Regions from separate parts of the Homo sapiens genome. Here regions 2, 3 and 4 are each linked to region 1. Evidence: fine-mapped expression QTL. A gene starts in region 1. Each other region holds a variant in brackets. All regions are shown on one strand. Distances are from middle to middle.

Region 1 (5,000 bases):
GCTCAACTATGCACACCTGTCCCTAAAGTAGTGGTAGTAGGCCCACTTCTTAGGGAAATGTATCAAAATCACTGAGGCGAAGGCAAAGTTTTCAACCTATAGGTCCTCTCAATCCTTCCTGTATTCAGCCACTGATGCTGAAAGGAATGTCCACCGTGGTGGCAAAAGGATGAGAACCACTGTCTCGGTCCAATAGCAGATCAGGCAAATGCTATGCCAACAGACCTTATAAAACGATTGATAATAAAATGGTTTCTGTATTACTTTAGCTAAGATTAAACTTACAAAGCTGCAGGGAAGGAGAGCTGAGAGTTGGGAAGAGAATCCAAAATAACTACACTAGTGTGAAGCTTTTAGAATCAAGTCAGGGATTTCAAAGGAGAAAGATTAGAAGTGGGCCAGAAAAAAAAAAAACAATTAGATGGATAAGTGAAATCAAGAGTCTACAAATTGCAGCTGGCGGGTGAGCGGTATTTAAGTCTTGTTCTAGGGATAGTGAGTGAATCACTTTAGTGGGAAGGTGCCTGAGTAGTGTCAGGTCAGAGTGTGACTATAAAAGGCTCTGAAAGACAAAGTTTTAAAATGTGCATTTTGGCCGGGCGCTGTGGCTCACGCCAGTAATCCCAGCACTCTGGGAGGCCAAGGCAGGCGGATCACGAGGTCAGGAGATCGAGACCATCCTGGCCAACATGGTGAAACCCCGGCTCTACTAACAATACAAAAAAAAATTAGCTGGACGTGGTGGCGTATGCCTGTAATCCTAGCTACTTGGGAGGCTGAGGTAGGAGAATTACTTGAACCGGGGAGTTAAGAGGTTGTAGTGAGCCGGGATCACGCCACTGCACTCCAGCCTGGGTGACAGAGACTCCATCTCAACAACAAAAAAAAAGTGCATTTTACTCTTGGCAAAATGAGACACTGAAGAAGGGTTTCTGAAGAAGGGTACACTGTGTGGTTAAAGTGATACTCCGGAGAAGATTAACCTAAGGGTCTTAAAAACAGGATGAATCGGCCGGGCGCAGTGGCTCACGCCTGTAATTCCAGCACTTAGGGAGGCCAAGGCGGGCGGATCACGAGGTCAGGAGATCGAGACCATCCTGGCTAATACGGTGAAACCCCGTCTCTACTAAAAACACAAAAAATTAGCCGGGCGCGATGGCGGGCGCCTGTAGTCCCAGCTACTCGGGAGGCTGAGGCAGGAGAATGGCGTGAACCCGGGAGGCGGAGCTTGCAGTAAGCCGAGATAGCGCCACTGCAGTCCGGCCTGGGCGACAGAGCGAGACTCCTCTCAAAAAAAACAAAAACAAAAACAAAAAACAAACAAAAAAACCAGGATGAATCTAGGGGAGAGAAACTAATGATGAATACACTGAACTCCTTGGCACAAGATTCACAAAAATGCTATAAAAACACTAGATAATAGATCTTTCCATTATATATGTTTACAATATAATTATAATGTATGTTAATACAAATAAGGAATATCAGTTGCCAATACTTAATTTTAACTCACAAGGCCTTCTTTCCTCTCTTTTTTGTTGTATCTGAATGTTCCTTGAGTTTTTCGCTAGAAAGGCATAATGTAAATCTAAAAAAGAAAATAATAAACTACTACTTTCAATTTTCAAAAAAGCTCATATGTAAAAACTTACTAAGTCTACAAAAATTTTAAAGCACTACTCATTCAAATTTTCAAATGCGTTACAACATCATTTATCCTGAAATAGGGAACTTGAATCTTTTTTTTTTTTTTTTGAGACGGAGTTTCGCTCTTGTAGCTCAGGCTGGAGTGCAATGGCTCGATCTTGGCTCACTGCAACCTCCGCCTCCCGGATTCAAGCGGTTCTCCTACTTCAGCCTCCCGCCACCACACCCAGCTAATTGTTTATATTTTTTAGTAGAGACCGGGGGGGCGGGGCTGGGGTGGGGAGCGGCTTCACCATGTTGGCCAGGCTGGTCTCGAACTCCTGACCTCAGGAGATCCACCCGCCTCGGCCTCCCAAAGCCCTGGGATTAAAGGCGTGTGCCACCGCGCCCGGCGGACTCTTGTCTTTAATAGATGGAGGTTTTAGGAGCAATTTTTGCTTAGAACTTATGGTCCACTAAGATATTAAGGTTTATAATCATGCAATAATGTTCCTTAAAGTTGATAATAAAATCTGGAAATCAACTGGTTAATTTTTGTGGCTGACACATTCGTGACTTAAAAAAGCAATCGACAGAACTTCATCATGCTATACAAAGAAAAGATCGTAAAACTTAGTTGCAAAGCTTAACAAAGGTATATCCCACAGGGGTAACTGGACGCAAACCACCTGCGGATGTGAATGCCACTTCACTGACCAGAGAGGTAGCAAGAGGCGAGGCGCAGTGAGATTCTGAATTAGGAGCCTCGAATTAAGACACGCCCACACTCATCACCACTAAATTAGTGCGGCCAGTTTTGTGGGCCGTGGTGTTCAGCGTCCGCGGGGTTCTCCCAAGGGAGGCAGAATCTCCGGTCACCAGCCTCGAAGGCCCTCGGGGACTCAGGCCGGGGGCCGGTCCAGGAAGGAGCGAGTCCCACCAGTCGCAGGGCGCTCCGATCCGCAGCGGCACCTCCACCCACGGCTCCGGGAGAGCCGCCCAGAGCCAAACCACTCCCCGCCTAAGGGCGTCAGGGGAGGGAGGAGCTTGACTGGGGCTAGCAGAAGGAGTTAGTCCTGTACCTGTGCGGAGACTGTAAAACTGCCATCCCGCGCCGCAACACTGACGCGGCTGTGGTGCCAGGCCGCTCCTGCTCCTGCCAGGGCCGCGCCGGCCACTGCCGCTGCCAAGGGGCCGGGACTCCGCACAGCCTGTCGGCTGACAGCGAGCCCCCGTCGCAGTTTTCCGCCCCAGGCCGCCACCCGCGCGCAGCTACCCGCAGCCGCCGCCATCTTTGCGGAAGCGCAGCTAGGCGGCGCTTCTCTCCCGGCGCCGCCGCCTACCGCTTGGGAACTCTCGCGACATCCGACAGGCTTCCGCCCCGCCTACCGGGCCTGCGCCGTGGGTGCGGTTGCTGAGGCGACGCTCGCAGCCGCAAGAGGTGGCCTTCGGTTCCGGGGCTGCCTTCTAAGGCTGTGGGGATGGGATGACAGGAAGAGTATCAAGACAGTATAATATGACTTCCTAGTCCAAAACAAGATAGTGCCCTCGGTTGTGTGGGCAGGTTTCTCCTTTTCATTTTTTCACCTTGTAAAACTGTGAAACGTTTTTTGAAATAGTCTCTTCTGCATCTGTGTTGTTCATGTCTTCCTATGCTTATAGTCTTGACTGTTCTTTCATTTCTGCTAAAACAACTCTCAGACAAGGCATTCTGTTTATTTCAGTCCCTCACTATTTGCTTATAATGAATTTAAATTCAGTTTCAACAAAAGGTTTGATAGTAGCTCTTATCCTACCTAGAACTAAAAGTCAGAGACAGCAGCACACCAGCCCCATGTCTCTATCATCAGGGACCCAGAGGTTTTCCCCAGTGCAGATTTAGAACGATACCTCCAGTCCTGGCTGTTGCATTGGTGATAAGTGATGTAGCTGAGGCAGACTACTTGGTTTTATTTAACAGCCTCCAATCCTCCATTCTTTGGTCTTCACTTTTCCTGAGTAACTCTTTTTAATAAACTCTTTGTTCAGCCTCTGAAATGTCCCCAGCTATTAGAAGCTTTAGTTGGGCATGCAGTAACGGAGCCAACATCAAAGGGGCCAAGACTCCTAATCACATAATCACTGCTGTCTTGAAGTTTTGCACAAAACAAAACTTCAAGAAACAAAAACAAAAACCTGTCACACGAAATCTAATTTGATCATTCAGTGGAAGTTCCGTGGATCCCTTTGTTATTATCTGCCCTTAATCCTTGCTCCCTTTCTCTTAGCCCGCTTGTCTAAATTAATCTGCAGTCAGAGGTTCCTCACTTTTCCGTCAGCTTCTGGACTTACTTTTCAGTGTGCCTTCCCAGGTAGGAAGTAGAGAGATGAGCCTCACTTCACCGACTTGTGAGCCAGACCTCAAGGTTTGAATCTTAGCTCTACCAGGATGATCACTGTGGTTTGGGGCAAATTATTTAATCTCTCTGAGTCTCCATTTTCTCATTTGTAAATAACTCACGATTTGGTAGATGATCACTGCTATTTGGGGTAAGGTATTTAATCTCTTTGAGTCTCAATTTTTTCATCTGTGAACAACCCTCTTACAGTTTGGGGTGGGGAAGCTAAATGAGATATTTTATATAAAGTGACTAGCCAAATGCCTGGCACATGGTAGGCTCATGACAGATGTGCGTTTACTGTGGTCAAGGTTTGGTTTACTTCTGCCCTGTGAACACAAATGAGCTTGACTGAATGTCCATGATTCCAGATCACTAGCCCATCTTAACCTGAGATTTTCCTGCTTTTTTGTATCTAGCCTGACTTTGTCAACCTCTGGACTGTTTTTCACCTCTGCTAACTCTGGTAGCTTTGGCACATGTCCTGCTTTTCTGGACTATTGACATCTAGCTTGTTTCCTGGTGATAATAGGACTTCCAGGATATTTTGGACACCCTGGATGTCTTACCTTGTAGTTTATTCTTGATTTCCAGAAACCACAGTCTTTACGTGTATACTTCTAACTGCCTCACACAGTTCCTCTAGGTATTTAATGAAACCTGGCATCTATTACTCAGTATTGCCTTAAGCCCAAGATAAGTTTAGATTCCCATTAAAACATGTAGCATATTTAAGAACATTGTCTTTCTCCCACAATTTGACATCCTTGTGGGTGAGATGTCTTCCTTTTCCCTGTTTCTCTAGCACCTAGCACAATGCCCAGCACGTAATAGACATTCAATGAGTGAGTAAATAAGTGAATAAATAAATGGCACAAATGAAACTCAGGGGTTCATATTTCTATGCTTTGGCCATCCAAAATACAGAAGTATATTATTCCTTTGGGGTACTTTATTTTCAAAACAAAAGCTTCTTTTTATTTTGCCAAAAATCTT
Region 2 (5,520 bases), 120 kb before region 1:
ATGACTTTGAGGCAGGAGAGAGCTTGAGGGGTTCCAGGGAAAACAAGATGGCCATAGTGGTTGAGCAAGAGTGGGAAGGAGAGAAGGTGAGGTTGGGAGTGTCAGGGGCAGGGGCAGGAAGAACCTTGAGACCTTGGTGAAGGTTTGTATTTTATTGTTATGGGAGCCTTTGAACATAACTTAAAGAAGTTATTTACTTTTTTGGTGGTTGTCCTTGAGTTTGCAGTATATGTTTATAACTAACCCATGTCTTCTTTCTTTCCTTCTTTTTTTTGGGGGAGGTGGGGTGGGATGGGGGGGGACAGGGTCTCTGCCACCCAGGCTAGAGTGCAGTAGTGCAATCACAGCTCACTGCAGCCTCAAACTCCTGGGCTCCAGCGATCCTCCTGCCTCAGCCTCTTGAGTAACTAGGGCTGTAGGTATGCATCGCTATGCCCGGCTAATTTATTTTATTTTTAATTTTTTGTAGAGATGGGGGTCCATGTCCTCTTTGAAATAACACTATACTACTTCAAGGGTATGCAGGTACTTTATACAAGAGCATTTTCTCTTTTCTTTCTTTCTCTTTCTGTCTCTCTGTCTCTCTCTTTCTCTTTCTTTGTCTTCTTTCTTTCTCTTTCTGTCTGTCTCTTTCTCTTTGTCTTCTTTCTTTCTCTTTCTTTGTCTTTCTCTTTCTTTTCTTTTCTTTCTTTTCTTTCTTTTTTTTTTGACAGAGACTCACTCTGTCACCCAGGCTGGAGTGCAGTAGTGCAATCTCAGCTCACTGCAACCTCCACCTCCCGGGTTCAAGTGATTTTCCTGCCTCAGCCTCCTGAGTAGCTGGGATTACAGGCATAACCCATCACGCCTGGCTAATTTTTGTATTTTTAGTAGAGACGGGGTGTTTCCCCATGTTGGTCAGGCTGGTCTTGAACTCTTGACCTCAAGTGATCCTCCCGCTTTGGCCTCCCAAAGTGCTGGGATTACAGGCATGAGCCACCATGTCAGGGCCCTCTGGAGGTTTTTTTTTTTTTTTTTTTTTTTTTTTGAGACAGAGTGTTGCTCTGGTTGCGCAGGCTGGAGTGCAATGGCATGATCTCAACCAACTAACTGCAACCTCCACCTCCCAGGTTCAAGCTATTCTCCTGCCTCAGCCTCCCATGTAGCTGGAATTATAGGCATGTGCCACCATGCTCGGCTAATTTTGTACTTTTAGTAGAGACGGGGTTTCTCCATGTTGGTCAGGCTGGTCTCGAACTCCCCACCTCAGGTGATCCATCCACCTTGGCCTCCCAAAGTTCTGGGATTACAGGCGTGAGCCACCACACCCAGCCTGGAGTTTTTAACTCTCAAACTTGTCCGTAAGGAGCCTCTGTCAATACATTAAATCACAGTTTAGGTTTTCTTTATTTCCTTCCATCTTTGAATTTCATTTGTTCTTTTTCTGGTTCCTTAAGGTGTAAAGTTGTTGATTTGAGATTATTGTTCTTTTTAAATGTAAACATTTATAGCTATTAATTTCTGTCTTAAGGCTGGACGCGATGGCTCATGCCTGTAATCCCAGCACTTGAGGCCAAGGTGGGCGGATCACCTGAGGTCAGGAGTTTGAGACCAGCCTGGCCAACATGGTGAAACCCTATCTCTACTAATAATACAAAAATTAGCCAGGATGGTGGCAGGCGCCTGTAATCCCAGCTACTTAGGAGGCTGAGGCAGGAGAATTGCTTGAACCCGGGAGGCAGAGGTTGCAGTGAGCCGATATCGTGCCATTACACTCCAGCCTGGGGGACAAGAGCAAGACTTCATCCCCCCCAAAAAAAAAAATTTCCCTCTTTAGCACTGCTTTCACTGCATCTCATAGTTTTGCTGTTGTGTTTTCATTTTTATTTGTCTCAACGTATGTTCTCATTTCCCTTTTCTTTGAGGCATTGGTTGTTTGAGTGGGTTGTTAATTTCCACATATTTGTGGCCCAGTGGCTTTTATATATACTTATGAAGTTACCTTTAGTAGTATTTTTTTTTCTTCTGTCTTTGAATTACTGTCTATTGTCTTTTCATTTCAGTCTGAAGCACTCCGTTTAGCATTTCTTGTAGGGCAGTACTGGTAATAAGACTCAGTCTTTTAAATCTGGATATATCTTAATTTCTCCTTCATTCTTGAATGATAGTTTTGCTGTATATAGAGTTCTCGGTTGACAGTCTTTTTCTTTCAAGACTTTAAATATGTCATCCAGTGCCTTTTGGCCTCCATGGTTTCTAGTGGAAGATAAACTGTCATTCTTAATGAAGGTCTCTTGTACATGCATGAGTCACTTTTTTTTTTTTTTTTTTTTTTCCACGGAGTCTTGCTCTGTCGCCCAGGCTGGACTGCAGTGGTGTGATCTTGGCTCACTGCAAGCTCTGCCTCCAGGTTCTGGCCATTCTCCTGCCTCAGCCTCCTGAGTAGCTGGGACTACAGGTGACCGCCACCACGCCCAGCTAATTTTTTGTATTTTCAGTAGAGATGGGGTTTCACCGTGTTAGCCAGGATGGTCTCAATCTCCTGACCTCATGATCCGCCCACCTCAGCCTCCCAAAGTGCTGGGATTACAGGCATGAGCCACCGCACCTGGCCGCATGAGTCACTTCTACCTGATGCTTTCAAAATTATCTTTTTGTCTATGGGAGTTGATAATTTGACTATATGTCTCAGTGTGTATCTCTTCAAAGTTTTCCTGCTTGGAGTTCATTGAGCTTCTTAGATGTATATATTCATGTTTTTAATCAGATTTGGGAAGTTGTCAGCTATTATTTCTTCAAAT[T/A]TTTTGCTGCTCCTTTCTCTATGTCTTCTCCTTCTGGGATTCCTATAATGTGTATTTGGTATGCTTGATGAGGTCCCATAGGTTCCTCAGGCTGTCTTCATTTTTCTTCACTCTTTCTTTCTTTTCCCTAGACTGGGTAATTTTCAATGTCTTATCTTCAATTTTGCCAGTCCTCTCTTTTCCTTGTTCAAACTTGCTGTTGAATCCCTCTATTGCATTTTTCATTTTAGTTATTGCAGATTTTGTTTGGCTCCTTTTTATAATTTCTATTTATACTTTCATTTTGTTCAGACATTGTTTTCTTGATTTCTATTAGTGTTTATTCATGGTTTCCTTTAGAAAACATATTGAACATATTTAAAACAATTGATTTAACATCTTTGACTAATAATTCCAAAGTCTGGTCTTCTTTAGGTATGGTTTCTGTGAAATTCTTTATATCCTGTGAATGGATCATACTTTCCTGTTGCTTTACATGTTTTATAATTTTTTGTTGAGAACTGGTTATTCTGAGCATTATGTTGTAGTAACTCTGGAATCTAATTCTACTCCTTAGGGATTGCTTGTTTTTGCTTGTTGTGGGCTGGACCCATTCCTATTTGTGCCTTTTCCAAACAATGTATCTTCCTTGTTGTGTGTGGCTACTGAGGTTTCTTTTCTGTTATCTCTACAGTTAGCCAGTAACCTGACAAAAATGTCCTTAAATGTCTGACTTTCAAGAAGGAGGGAAGATATCCTGTCTCTTTAAATCTCTTGTGGCTGGGAAGCTGCTTCAGCTTGTGAAGTGGGCATTAAAAAATGGTTGGCCTCCAGCCTGGCCCCTCATCACTTTATCAAAATCAGCAAGCAGCTAGCAGAACACATGACCCCCACTCCTGGAGGATAAGGTCTTTTGTGCTCACACTGGTTCCAGGAAGCTGCCCCAGGAATGTGGGCTGCTTCCCTGACAGTTTCCTGATGCTGGGTGGCAGGCTTTTTGCTGTTGCTGCTACATCACAAAAGGCTGAAGTTCACCAAAATTTACTAGCAACTTCATCAAACTCTCCCTCAAATGTCAGAAATGTTCCAAAATAAGACAATTCCTGCCAGTTCAATAGTTGTTTAGGTGAAGGGACAGATTCCTGGAGCCTCCTGCTCTGCTATCTTCCCTGACATCATTCCCTACATTATGCCTTTTTTTTGAGACAGAGTTTCACTTTGTTGCTCAGGCTGGAGTGCAATCTTGGCTCACTGCAACCTCTGCCTCCTGATTTCAAGCGATTCTCCTGCCTTGGCCTCCTGAGTCACTGGAATTACAGGTGCCTGCCATCACACCTGGCTAATCTCATGTTTTTAGTAGAGGCGGGGTTTCACCATGTTAGCCAGGCTGGTCTTGAATTCCTGACTTCAAGTGATCCTCCCGCCTCGGCCTCCCAAAGTGCTCGGATTACAGGCATGAGCCACCATGCCTGGCCTCTACATTATGCTTTGATTTTTATGATTTAACACCTGGAGGGTAACCTTGTTTCCAAACTTTGGGAGGACATTTCAATTTGTTTCCATTCCCAGAACCTGTTCTGCTTTCTAACCGTATCAGAACCCCTGGCCAGTCTCTCTTGATATTTGCTATCTGTGTCCAAAGCAGAGGCCAAACCAGAGCTGTCTTAAAGCTCCCTTAAGCCATCTACTCTCTCCTGTCCAGTCCTGTAACAGAAAAGCTGGTATGTGAGAACAGCTAAAGCACATATGGGGATTTTTTTTTTTTTTTTTTTTTTTGAGACAGAATCTCCCTCTGTCACTCAGGCTGGAATGTAGTGGCACAATCTCGGCCCACTGTAACCTCTGCCTCCCAGGTTCAAGTGATTCTCCTGTCTCAGCCTTCCGAGTAACTTGGACTACAGGTGCGTGCCAGGATGCCTCGCTAAATTTTTGTATTTTTAGTAGAGTTGGGGTTTTGCCATATTGGCCAGGCTGGTCTTGAACTCCTGACCTCAGGTGATCCGCCTGCCTCAGCCTCCCAAAGTGCTGGGATTAGCGGTGGGCATGAGCCACCGTGCCTGGCCCAGGGTTATTTCTTGTTCCACTTTCCTTTTTGTTAACTAATTCATAGGTCAAACATTTTTTTGAGCGAGTATGTGCTAGCTCTTTGATGGATGCTGGGAGATAGCGTTAAAGGAGTCATGTTGTTGCTATCAATGAGCTCATAGCCAAGGGGAAGAGGCAAATACATAAAAGAATTCCAGTATACTTTAATGAGGCTTGAAAGATATGTGGACAGAAACGTGTGAGGGAACTAACAGCATGTATCCCTAAATGAATTTGAGGGAAAAGCAGGGAGAAAAATGGAAAACTTTGCAGATGAAATGGCACTGGAAGTTAGGCAGGTGGGAGCATCTTCAACAGAAGCACTAGTAAGTGCAAACACTTGGAGAGTGAGAACATGGCCAAGCGGGGTGATGAGAAGTAATTCAGTATTGTTGTAGTGTAAAGTGTGTGGTGGCAAGTGTTAGGATATGAGAAAGATAGATGGGGCAAGATCATGTAGAGTTGAATTTTATTTTTTAAGCGATTTTAGTGTCGTAAGATTATCAGAAGCGTAGTGACATGATCAGATTTATGTTTCAGAAAATAAGTCTGTTGTGAAGGAGGATCTGAAATAAGAAGTTAACAGCATTAATATTTAAAAGCTGCTAAAGGTTTACTCCAGTGCATTTCATACATCATCTCAATCCTTACAAAAAGGCTATGACATCACAACTAA
Region 3 (5,000 bases), 110 kb before region 1:
AGTCCCAGCTACTCAGGAGGCTGAGGCAGGAGAATGGCATGAACCCAGGAGGCAGAGCTTGCAGTGAGCCGAGATCGTGCCACTGCACTCCAGCCTGGGCAACAGAGTGAGACTCCGTCTCAAAAAAAAAAAAAAAAAAAAAAAAAGATAGCGAGGGAAAGGCATCGCTGTCAGAAGGAAATGGCATGTGTAACAAGCTTAGGGGTAGGGGTATGTGAAACGCACATGGTGTACATGAGGAAAGGCCAGGAGCTTTATGTCGCTGGAGCACAAAACAGTATTCATGGAATGCTGTGGAAAGTGGGGCAGACAAATCAGTGCCAGGTGAGGCTGAAAAAGTGAAGCCTGTGAAGGCATGAGAAACCATCTTAATTTTTGGATTTTTGTGCCCCTAATCTTGACCCATAAGGGCATCTGGAAAGACAGGTGAGGAGTCAGCATTTTTGTGGTTGACAGAGAAAATGGTGGAGGATTCATTCATTCATACTTATACTTTCTTGCATTGCCTATCTTTTGGTTTTATAAGAGAGAGAAAAAATTATTTTATAAGCAATTATTTATAAAACAATTCATTAGAGCAAATTTGTTTTTGAATCAGGAGCAAAATATTTTTTGTAATAAATGGACAAAAGCTTTTGCCTCTTGTCGATTTCAATCATTAAACTGTGAGGGAGAGTTTTTCAATTTAGTGGATTAACATATTTCAAGGCATTATCCTTCAACAATAAGGGAGAGGTTTCTCTGGCCTCATTAATTTTTGGTGTAAACTCATGAATTCTTATTTCATTCAATAGGCTATAATCTATTACGGACATTAATTATTCTGACCCTCAAACTGAACCAGATTTGACAGGGGCAGCCCCTTCAAGCTGGCTTTGTCCTTCTGACTCTTCACCATTTTGTGAGCCCTTCTTTACTTTTAGGCACAATATATTCTAGGCTTATCTTGGACTTTCCCTGTCACGGCCTTGGGATCAGCCAGTTCTCTAGAGAATGGAACTGGTTTTATATATTTGCAATTTTCTAAATTGTGTGTCTGAGACACAAGTTTTTTATAATTTTTATTTACCAGGTTTTAAAAAATGCCATTTGATATTCAGTTTAATGCCAATTACCTTCTGGCAACATTTGTTTCCCACAACCTAATATATCCCATGAGCCCCTGACCTTGGGGTCAAAATTTCTCCCAGCTACACCAGGTTTTAAGAACTAATGAGGCTGGCAAGGGATGAGAGTATTTACAATTTTTTTTAAAGTAGTTTTAAAAACACATGTAAAATAAAAAGCACCTCAGTATTTTTTGTATCTATGTAAATATTTTATTCTGCTTCCAGATAGAACATTGAAGTTTACATGTTATTTTAAAGACAATAAACAGCTAAGCTACTGACATAAAATATGCAATAAATTTATGAGATATAAGGTACAGATGAGAAAAATCTGAAATAAGTTTTTAACTTCATTTAGCCTATTAGGAACATGAAGATGTCTGGAATTGATGCTGGCCTTGGTCTCAAGTACTTTTTCCCATATGTATTTGTTTTATCCTTCCAGAAAGCATATCATATTAGAGTGTCTAAGAAATCAGTGAATCACTAAGTTTTCCATCTTACCGAAGTACAAAACATTATTTCAAATCTAGGCCTTCTGACAGAATCCAATATCTATTTTTATACTTACTTTTCTTTCTACTAAGTTCTTTAATAAAATTATGAATCAGAAAGCAAGTACAAGACATGCTTATTTCACACAGAATATCAATGAAGACTTAAGAAGATAAATAGCAAGTACTTCTAAAAAATCACAAATTTTGACATTTGGAACAATATAATTGCCATACTATTATATCTTTTATTAAAAAAGACCTTTTCCAGCTTGTTTCCAGACTTCTTTTACTCCTTTAATGCTTTCTTTCTTCACACACTTCCAGTATTCTTGTATACTCTGATGTTGTGGTACCTGTTAACCGAAAGTAAAAATCAAGGGGTCATTGTCTTCAAGGTTAAACATGATTTCATATATACTTTACGTTACTGTTTATTTCCTTCCCACACTCCTCCAAAAATAGTTGAGGGTGAATTATGTTGTAAAAGATGATCACAACAGAACTGAAAATGGGGGTAAAAGACAAAAAGTGAATGTAACTATGCTTAAGGTTACTAGGGAGTGGAACCAGACTGAGCACACATTAATGGAGTTTCTTCTCTAAGAGGGTAATGAAGACTTTGGGCCATCTCTTCTTTCACATACTGGCTTTAAAATTTAATTACTTTAT[A/C]ATGTTTTCCTTTTATAATGTTTTATAATCTTTCCCTTTTTTTCTGGTGAACTTTGTTTAGCTATGTAGAATACAATTATAAGCCTAAAGCTTTGATTTAACATTGGCTAAAATTAAAAAAAAAAAAGGCCACAAAGTATTTGATGAAAAGCTTCAAGAAATAATCTAATTCATGGACGTGTTTTGTTAGCTAAAAATACATGTGGATTACTACTACTCTCAACAAAATGAAAAGGTAAAGGTTAGGAAATATTTGGATCCGGGGGACCACAGGAGCATAGCACTGATGAAAATTAGCCAAGTGGAAGCAAAATTCTACTCCAGATTATATATGTTCTTTTTCTTATGACTGATTTACAGCTTTTCTTTTTAATGTCTTCTGAGAAAGGGCAAGGAGACTCCCAGGTACACTCAATTGTGAACTGAAAAGACTGGCTTAATTTCCCGGAATATATTTATGGGTGTTGGATAACTGCAAAGTTTATAAAATATTAATATGTTTGCTAATGAAAATAATATTTATTTTTCCCTAAGTTATGTTTGTTGCAGGAAATGGAATTGCTTTTCTAAGTTGTAAATAGCTTTATTTTCATGAATAGTACCATATTCTCTCTCTCTCTCCTTCCTTTTTTCTTGCCTACCTACCAACCATGTAGATTCTCTTTGGACCCTAGTCTTCCCCTGGCAGACTTCTTTTCTGAGAGTGCTTCTAGCACATTCTAATCTGAACAAAAATCTGAATTTGATTTGTCCCACAAGTATAGACTCATATGTGACTTTGAGTGAATAATGCTAATAGTGAAATTTACTTCATAATCTCAGCCACTATACTAAGTATTTTACATCAAATTCTAACAATAATGCTTTCTGGTAGATTAGTTTCCTCATGGTATGGGTCAAGAATCTGAGACTAAAAAAAATTAAGTGGCTTTGCAAGATTAAGCAGTTAATAAACAGTAGAGGTGGGATTTGAATTTACATATATCTAATTACATGTAGTTAGTCAAATCCTAGGCTATGATTTTTTTTCCCTTTTTTTGTAGAAACAGAGTCTCATGATGTTATCCACGCTGGTCTCAAACTCCTGGCCTCAAGTGATCCACCCGGCTCGGCCTCCCACAATGTGCTGGGATTACAGATGTGAGCCACCATGTCCAGCTAGGCTACATTTCTGAATAGTAATTTCTTTTTTAAAAAATTATTTTTTTTTGGAGACAAGGGCTTGCTCTGTTGCACAGTCTAGAGTGCAGTGGTGCGATCGTAGCTCACAGTCACTTTAAATAGTGATTTCTTATTAGATTCACATTATTTTTTAAAAAGCAAAGATGTTTAATCTCATATATAAAATATATTTCTGTATTTCAATTACAGCTTATAGTCTTTTTATAAGTGATGAAAACTCCATTTAAAGACTGTACAATTGCCCAAATTCTAGGTTTAATATCAGTTAATGACAATGTAAACATGTATTATATAAAAAAAATCTGTTACCCATAAACCTCGATGCATTCTGTTTTTTAACACCCCAAGAAACTCTTCATGACTAAGACATTCATCACCATCCAAATCAAAGATCTTAAAGACAGTGTCCAAAATATTGTTTGAGAGTTCTTGTCCTGTTGCTACTTTCACAGCTCTCTTAAACTCCGCTAAAAAACAAACATAAAACAACTTATCAACTATGTGAAATAGTCTAAGTGAAATTAATCTAAATTTTCATTATTTGAGAAGTAAAAGCAAATCCAAATTTTTATTATTTGGGAAGTAAAACAAAAACAAAAATACCCATGAAGAAAATATTCAAACCATAAGCCGACGAATGTCATGAGAGTCACTGCAAGACAAATGAGCTATTGTAATTTAATCAATGCTCTAAACATATATTTGAGATGAATCTTGCTCGTCGCCCAGGCTGGAGTGCAATGGCACGATCTTGACTCACTACAACCTCCGTCTCCCGGGTTCAAGCGATTCTCTTGCCTCGGCCTCCTGAATAGCTGGGATTACAGGCGCCTGCCACCACGCCCAGCTAGTTTTTGTATTTTTAGTAGAGATGGGGTTTCACCATGTTGGCCAGGCTGGTCTTGAACTCCTGACTTTGTGATCCGCCCACCTTGGACTCCCAAAGTGCTGGGATTACAGGCATGAGCCACCATGCCCGGCCTTCTTCCTTCTTTTTAGGAGAATGAGAAAATAAAAGTATAGAAAGTAACCATTAAACTGGAGTACTGGTATTCTAAATCTAGAATAACCACACTGAATTAAAAGGTCAATCAACTATTTTTACTTATAATTTGTTCCTTGATTGGTAGCATTTAGTTGAAGAATATAGTAAAACTGTTTATAGATGATAAAAATTAAATGGTTTTTCATATAACTTACCTAGTCTGACAGGACGATGAGCTAAACTGAACATCTGCATGGCAATAGCAAAGTCTTCCAAGTGGGTTGTAAAATGGCAAAATGACTTGAATTCATCCAAACTAATGCTCTAATAAAGTAAGAGTTTTTATTACAATTTTGTAAGTACATTAAATAATCTTATAAATGTTAACTATGAACTTTCTTTTCTACCGTAGAGACTAGTATCATTCTAAGAGGAAGAGACAACAGAGCTTTCTCTGTCCCTTTCTCTCTGTGTGCACACAGAAATGGCCACACAAAGGGCACAGTGAGAAGGTGCTGTGTGCAGGCTGGGCAAGAGGCCTCACCAGAAACTGGCCCT
Region 4 (5,520 bases), 170 kb before region 1:
GGAGTTCAAGACCAGCCTGGCCAAGATGGTGAAACCCCATCTCTACTAAAAATACAAAAAATTAGCTGGGCATGGTGGCGTGCGCCTGTAGTCCCAGCTACTCAGGAGGATGAGGCAGGAGAATCGCCTGAACCTGGGAGGCGGTTGCAGTGAGGCAAGATCACACCACTGCACTCCAGCCTGGGTGAAAGAGTGACACTCTGCCTCAAAAACAAAACAAAATAAAACAAAACAAAAGAACAAAACAACAACAAAAAAACCCAACAACAACAAAAATTATTAGGCACACTAAATGTTTATACATTTTTTTATGTAAGAAATGTCATTTTTCAATCTTGTCAATGACACTAACCTCATTTAGAGACAACATTAATTTATGGTTCTTTGTGAACATGAGGGCTGGCTATGTCCTATTCTTCACTTCATTGCCCCCTTTTCTTGCCTGTCTCCCACTTATTGAGCCTGAAAATATCAGATACTCACTTTATCAGTATACTTGTATCTACTATGGCTATGGGATCCAGTTCTTGCAAATGGATACATCTTGAGGGAGGGAAAAACTGTCACTGGGAAAAAATTTTTTTGCCCTCCTTAACAAGTGAGAAGCACGTGAGAAAGAAGCTCTATTATTTCCTTTATCCTGTTTTTGCTTTGAATTCTTATAATGTGAGGATGTGCTATCTGAATGTACAACTGTCAACTTTCAACCTTGATGGGCCAGTTATATGCTGGATATAGAATTCTGGGTTGACAGTTCTTTTCATTCAGTACTTTAAATATGTACTACTTCCTTCTAAATTCCACGGTTTCTGATGACAAATCTGCTGTTATTCTGTTTTTCCCCTATAGGTAAAGTGTCCTCACTGTTTTCAAGATTTTATATTTAGTGGTCAGAAATTTGGTTATAATGTATGTTGGAGTGGATTTCTTTGGGATTTTCCTGTTCAGAGTTTGCTGAACTTCTTAAGTTCTTCTTGAATATGTCCTTCGCCAAGTTTGAAAATTTTAAGCTATCATTTCTTTGAATACCTTTTCAACCATATCGTCTTTCTTCTCCCCTGGGACTCTGATGGTACAAATATTAGAACTTTTAAAAATAGTCCCACAAGTCCCTGATGATTTGTTCATTTTTATTTTTCAGTATATTTTCTCTCTTTTGTTCAGATTGGGTAATTTCTAATGTTTTATCTTCAAGTTCATTCACTTCACTTTTTTTCTCTGCCCTCTCCATTCTGCTGTTCAGTTGACTTTTTAAAATTTTGGCTATTGTATTTTCAGTTTAAAAATCTCCATCTGGTTCTTTACATCTTCTATTTCTTTGTTGAGAATTCTATTTTTTCATAATTCAATAGCAAATTGAATCACTTTAAAGATAGCTGCATTAAAGTCCTTGTCAAGTAATTCCAACATCTGTGTCTTTTTGGTTTTAGTATCTATTCTCTTTTCTCATTTAGTTTTCCTGGTTCTTGGTAGGATGGATGGTTTTCAATTGTATCCTGAAATGTTTTAGTATTATGCTGAGACTCTAGATCTTATTTAAATTTGTTTTTGCAGGCCTCGTCTGACTCCGTGCAGTGAGAGATGTGGGAGCACCACCTTGTTGCCATCAGGTGGGAGTCCAAGTCCCAGCTCCCTGCTAGGCTTCTGCACACATATCTTGGCTGGGAAGGGTAGAGGTGCCTCCTTAGTGCTTCCCAGATAGCCTCCATTGACACCATGAGAGGGAACTTGTTACTGTTTGGGGTGGGGGGATGGAAGGGACACATCATTACTGCCCAGTGGGAATGAAAATCTAGGCTCCTGACTAGGGCTTCACCTTTTCTGATACTATCCCAGCAGGAATACTGGGGAAGAGACACAGGAGGGGGGTCTTGTTACAGCTGGGCAAGCAGGAGAGGTCTTAAGCTCAATACTCAGTCTTTGCTGGTGAGAGTGGGGGATGGAGCACAGTTTGTCTATTGTTTTTGGCTAGAGTAGGGCAGTTATTGTCTACAAGTTTTCTGTCTTACTAGGTTGTCCCTTTCCTGGCTTGACTAATAAAACTGGTCTTTTCTAGGGTTTGTTTTGGTCTGTATTCATTGGTGTTTCCAGGTTGACAGCTTCTCTAGCACATATATGAAGAAAAAAAAAATCTAGGGAACACACCACCATGTTATTCCTCAGGTCGCAAGGTCCCTAGCTGATCTGGCTTCTTCTTGATACCTTTCAGAGTCTCCTCAGGTTTGTTTTCTGCACACTTTCCATGGATTTTAGCTGTACTTACTAAGAAAAGGAAGAAGTCTCTATTTCATCTTGTCTCAGAACTGGAAGTCCCTGCTTGTCCTTTTACTGCCGAATAGCATTCTGTTATATGGAGGTATGACAACTTTATCCATTAATCAGTTCATAGGCATTTGAGTGATTTCACCTTTTTGTCTATTATGATTACTCGTGTATTCACCAAGCCTTTGGGTGGACATAATATTTTTGTATTAGTCCATTTTCACGCTGGTGATAAAGACATACCCAAGACTAGGAAGAAAAAGAGGTTTAATTGGACTCACAGTTCCACATGGCTGGGGAGGCCTCAGAATTATGGCTGGAGGCAAAAAGGCACTTTTTACACAGTGGAGGCAAGAGAAAATGAGGATGCAAAAGCAGAAACCCCTGATAAAACCATCAGATCTCTCTTGAGACTCATTCACTACCACGAGAACAGTATGGGGGAAACCACCCCCATGATTCAAATTATATCCCACTGGGTCCCTCCCACAACACAGGGGAAATTACAGGAGTACAACTGAAGATGAGATATGGATGGGGACACAGCCAAACAATATCAATTTTCATTACTTAATATCTAAAAATGGGATTGCTGGGTCTAATGTTAAATATGT[G/A]CTTAACTTTACCAGTAACAGCCAAACTGTTTTCAAAGTGGCTGTATTTGGCACAAAGTGTTTGGCACTTCCACTTACAATGGATCAGAGTTATAGTTGCTCCACATCCTCACCAATACTTAGAATTGACAGTTTTTAAAATTTAGCTGTTCTAAAAAATATGCAGTGGTATCTTCATTTCACTTTTGTGTTTTTCTAATAACTACAGCATCTTTTCATGTGTTTAACAATCACTATCCCTTATTTGTGAAGTTATATGTTCAATGGTGCCCCTCTTTTAACTGTATTGCTTATTGAGTCATGAGTTCTTCATATATTCTGGATACAAATCTTGATATGTGTGTGCCAATATTTTCTCCTAGGCCATAACTTGCCTCTTTATATTTTTAACAGTGTCTTTTGAAGAGCACAAACTCTTAATTTTGATGAAGTCTTAATTTAATTTATCAATTTTTTTCTTTTATCATTCATGCCTGGGAAATCTTTGCCAACCTATGAAAGTCACAGTTTCTCATATGTTTTCTTCTGGAAGTTTTATAGGTTTTATATTTAGGTCTGTAATATATTTCATTTTCATTTTATATCATTTCATATTTTTTATTATTTTTGAGACAGAGTCTTGCTCTCATTTTATTTCATATTTTATTTTATTATTTTTCAGACAGAATCTCGCTCTGTCGCCCAGGCTGGAGTGCAGTGGTGCGATTTCAGCTCACTAAAACCTCCGCTTCCTGGTTCAAGCCATTTTCCTGCCTCAGCCTCCCAAGTAGCTGGGACTAAAGGCATGCACCACAGTGTCCCACTAATTTTTTTTTTTTTTTTGAGACAGAGTCTCGCTCTGTAGCCCAGGCTGGTGTGCAGTGGCGTGATCTCGGCTCACTACAAGCTCTGCCTCCTGGGTTCACACCATTCTCCTGCCTCAGCCTCCTGAGTAGCTGGGACTGCAGGCGCCCACCACCATGCCTGACTAATTTTTTTTGTGTTTTTTAGTAGAGATGGGGTTTCACCATGTTAGCCAAGGTGGTCTGGATCTCCTGACCTCGTGATCCACCTGCCTCGGCCTCCCAAAGTGCTGGGATTACAGGCATGAGACATCTCTCCTGGACAACTTTTTTGTATTTTTAATAAAGATAGGGTTTCACCATGTTGGCCAGGCTTGTCTTGAACTCCTGACCTCAACTGATCCGCCTACCATGGCCTCCCAAAGTGCTGGGATTACAGGTGTGACCCACCATGCCCCCCCATGTAATCCATTTTAAAAAGTTGATACTTTGTATATGGTACAGGTAAAGGTTGAGGTTAATTTTTTTACATATGAATGGTGAATAGTTCTTACAGTGTTAGTTGAAATAACTATTTGTTCTTCATTAAATTAACCTGGAATTTTCTTATGGGAATCAACTGACTATACGTGTAAGGGTTTATTTCTGAACTCTATTTTGTTCCACTGGTCTATATGTCCATTCTTACTCAGATACTACAGTCTTGATTACATATAGCTTTCAGTAAATCTTGAAATCAGATAGTATGGGTCCTCCAACTTATTATTTTTCAAAAGTATTTTGGCTATTTTAGGTTTGCATTTCCATATAAATACTTACTTATTTTTACCTTTTTTAGAGACAGGATTTTGCTGTATTGCCCAGGCTTGTCTCAAACTCCTGGGCTCAAGCAGTCTGTCTGTCTCAGCCTCCCAAGTAGCTAGGACTATAGGCCTCCTGAGTAGCTAGACAGCTTGCATGCCATTGTGTCTGGCCCATGTAAATTTTAAACTCATCTTATTGATTTCCTTAAAAAAATACTCAAACAAGGCCAGGCATGGTGGCTCATGCCTGTAATCCCAGCACTTTGGGAGGCTGAGGCGGGCGGATCATGAGGTCAGGAGATCGAGACCATCCTGGCTAACACAGTAAAACTCCATCTCTACTAAAAATACAAAAAATTAGCCGGGCGTGGTGGCGGGTGCCTGTAGTCCCAGCTACTCAGGAGGGTGAGGTAGGAGAATGGCGTGAACCCAGAAGGCGGAGCTTGCAGTGAGCCGAGATCACTCCACTGCACTCCAGCCTGGGTGACAGAGCAAGACTCCATCTGGTGGGGGTGGGAGGCGGGAATTCACAAACAAAAATCTGCCTGGTTTTGTTTTTTGTTTGTTTGTTCTGGGAGATCCAGTGCTGGCTGATGCCTGGATTTTGACTGGCTGAACTTACAGATCAACTTGGGGAGAAGTAATGTCTTTGAAATATTGTCTTACAGCCCATGACCATGGCGTAGCTCTCCATTTTAGATTTTCTCTATCACACAGAATCTTGCACATATTTTATTAGACTTATCCCTAAAATATTTCATGTTTTTGATGCTATTATAAACAGCATTTCTAAAAATTCCAATTTTAATTACTCATTGCTATAGAATAGTATTTAGAAATATGTTTTAGTTTTTTTATTGACCTTGTATGCTGGCTCAATTCACTTTTCGGTTCTAGTAGCTTGTTTGCAGTTTCTTTGGGATTTTCTACATAAATGACTAGTCTGGTAATCAACAGGGTTTGTTTTCCTTTCCTACGTGTGTGTGTGTGTGTGTCTGTGTGTCTGTGTGTGTGCGTGCACACCATTTTAAAAGGAAGATTAAATACCTGATAAGTTGA

Direction of the effects. Alleles are on the strand shown, and positions count from the first base shown. SD is a standard deviation of normalised expression in the study named. Not every link is listed here.
For the expression in CD4 T cells of the gene that starts at base 2,940 in region 1, G is the low allele of the variant in region 4 and A is the other (moderate effect, 0.52 SD a copy in BLUEPRINT).

What was found.
Region 2: its variant is fine-mapped to the expression of MICU2 in whole blood (TOPMed, PIP 0.90).
Region 3: its variant is fine-mapped to the expression of MICU2 in blood mononuclear cells (TOPMed, PIP above 0.99).
Region 4: its variant is fine-mapped to the expression of MICU2 in CD4 T cells (BLUEPRINT, PIP 0.95).

What each region holds. Positions count from the first base shown.
Region 1 is chr13:21,601,231-21,606,230 of GRCh38, forward strand. It overlaps MICU2 (mitochondrial calcium uptake 2), which reads right to left and starts at 2,940. Exons shown (of 12, transcript NM_152726.3): 1 at 2,709-2,940. The coding sequence starts at 2,918. RefSeq lists enhancers at 2,034-2,653, 2,654-3,272, 3,054-3,123 and a silencer at 2,674-2,883.
Region 2 is chr13:21,484,310-21,489,829 of GRCh38, forward strand. No RefSeq gene overlaps it. Among named protein-coding and RNA genes, the nearest start is that of ZDHHC20, 28 kb to the left of the region's middle. The variant T/A (reference allele first, on the strand shown) is at 2,781.
Region 3 is chr13:21,491,395-21,496,394 of GRCh38, forward strand. MICU2 (mitochondrial calcium uptake 2) reads right to left here. Exons shown (of 12, transcript NM_152726.3): 10 at 4,658-4,766; 11 at 3,767-3,924; 12 at 1,297-1,959. The coding sequence ends at 1,855. Among named protein-coding and RNA genes, the nearest start is that of ZDHHC20, 35 kb to the left of the region's middle. The variant A/C (reference allele first, on the strand shown) is at 2,276.
Region 4 is chr13:21,428,650-21,434,169 of GRCh38, forward strand. The region is part of intron 1 of ZDHHC20 (zDHHC palmitoyltransferase 20); the gene reads right to left. Among named protein-coding and RNA genes, the nearest start is that of ZDHHC20, 28 kb to the right of the region's middle. The variant G/A (reference allele first, on the strand shown) is at 2,877.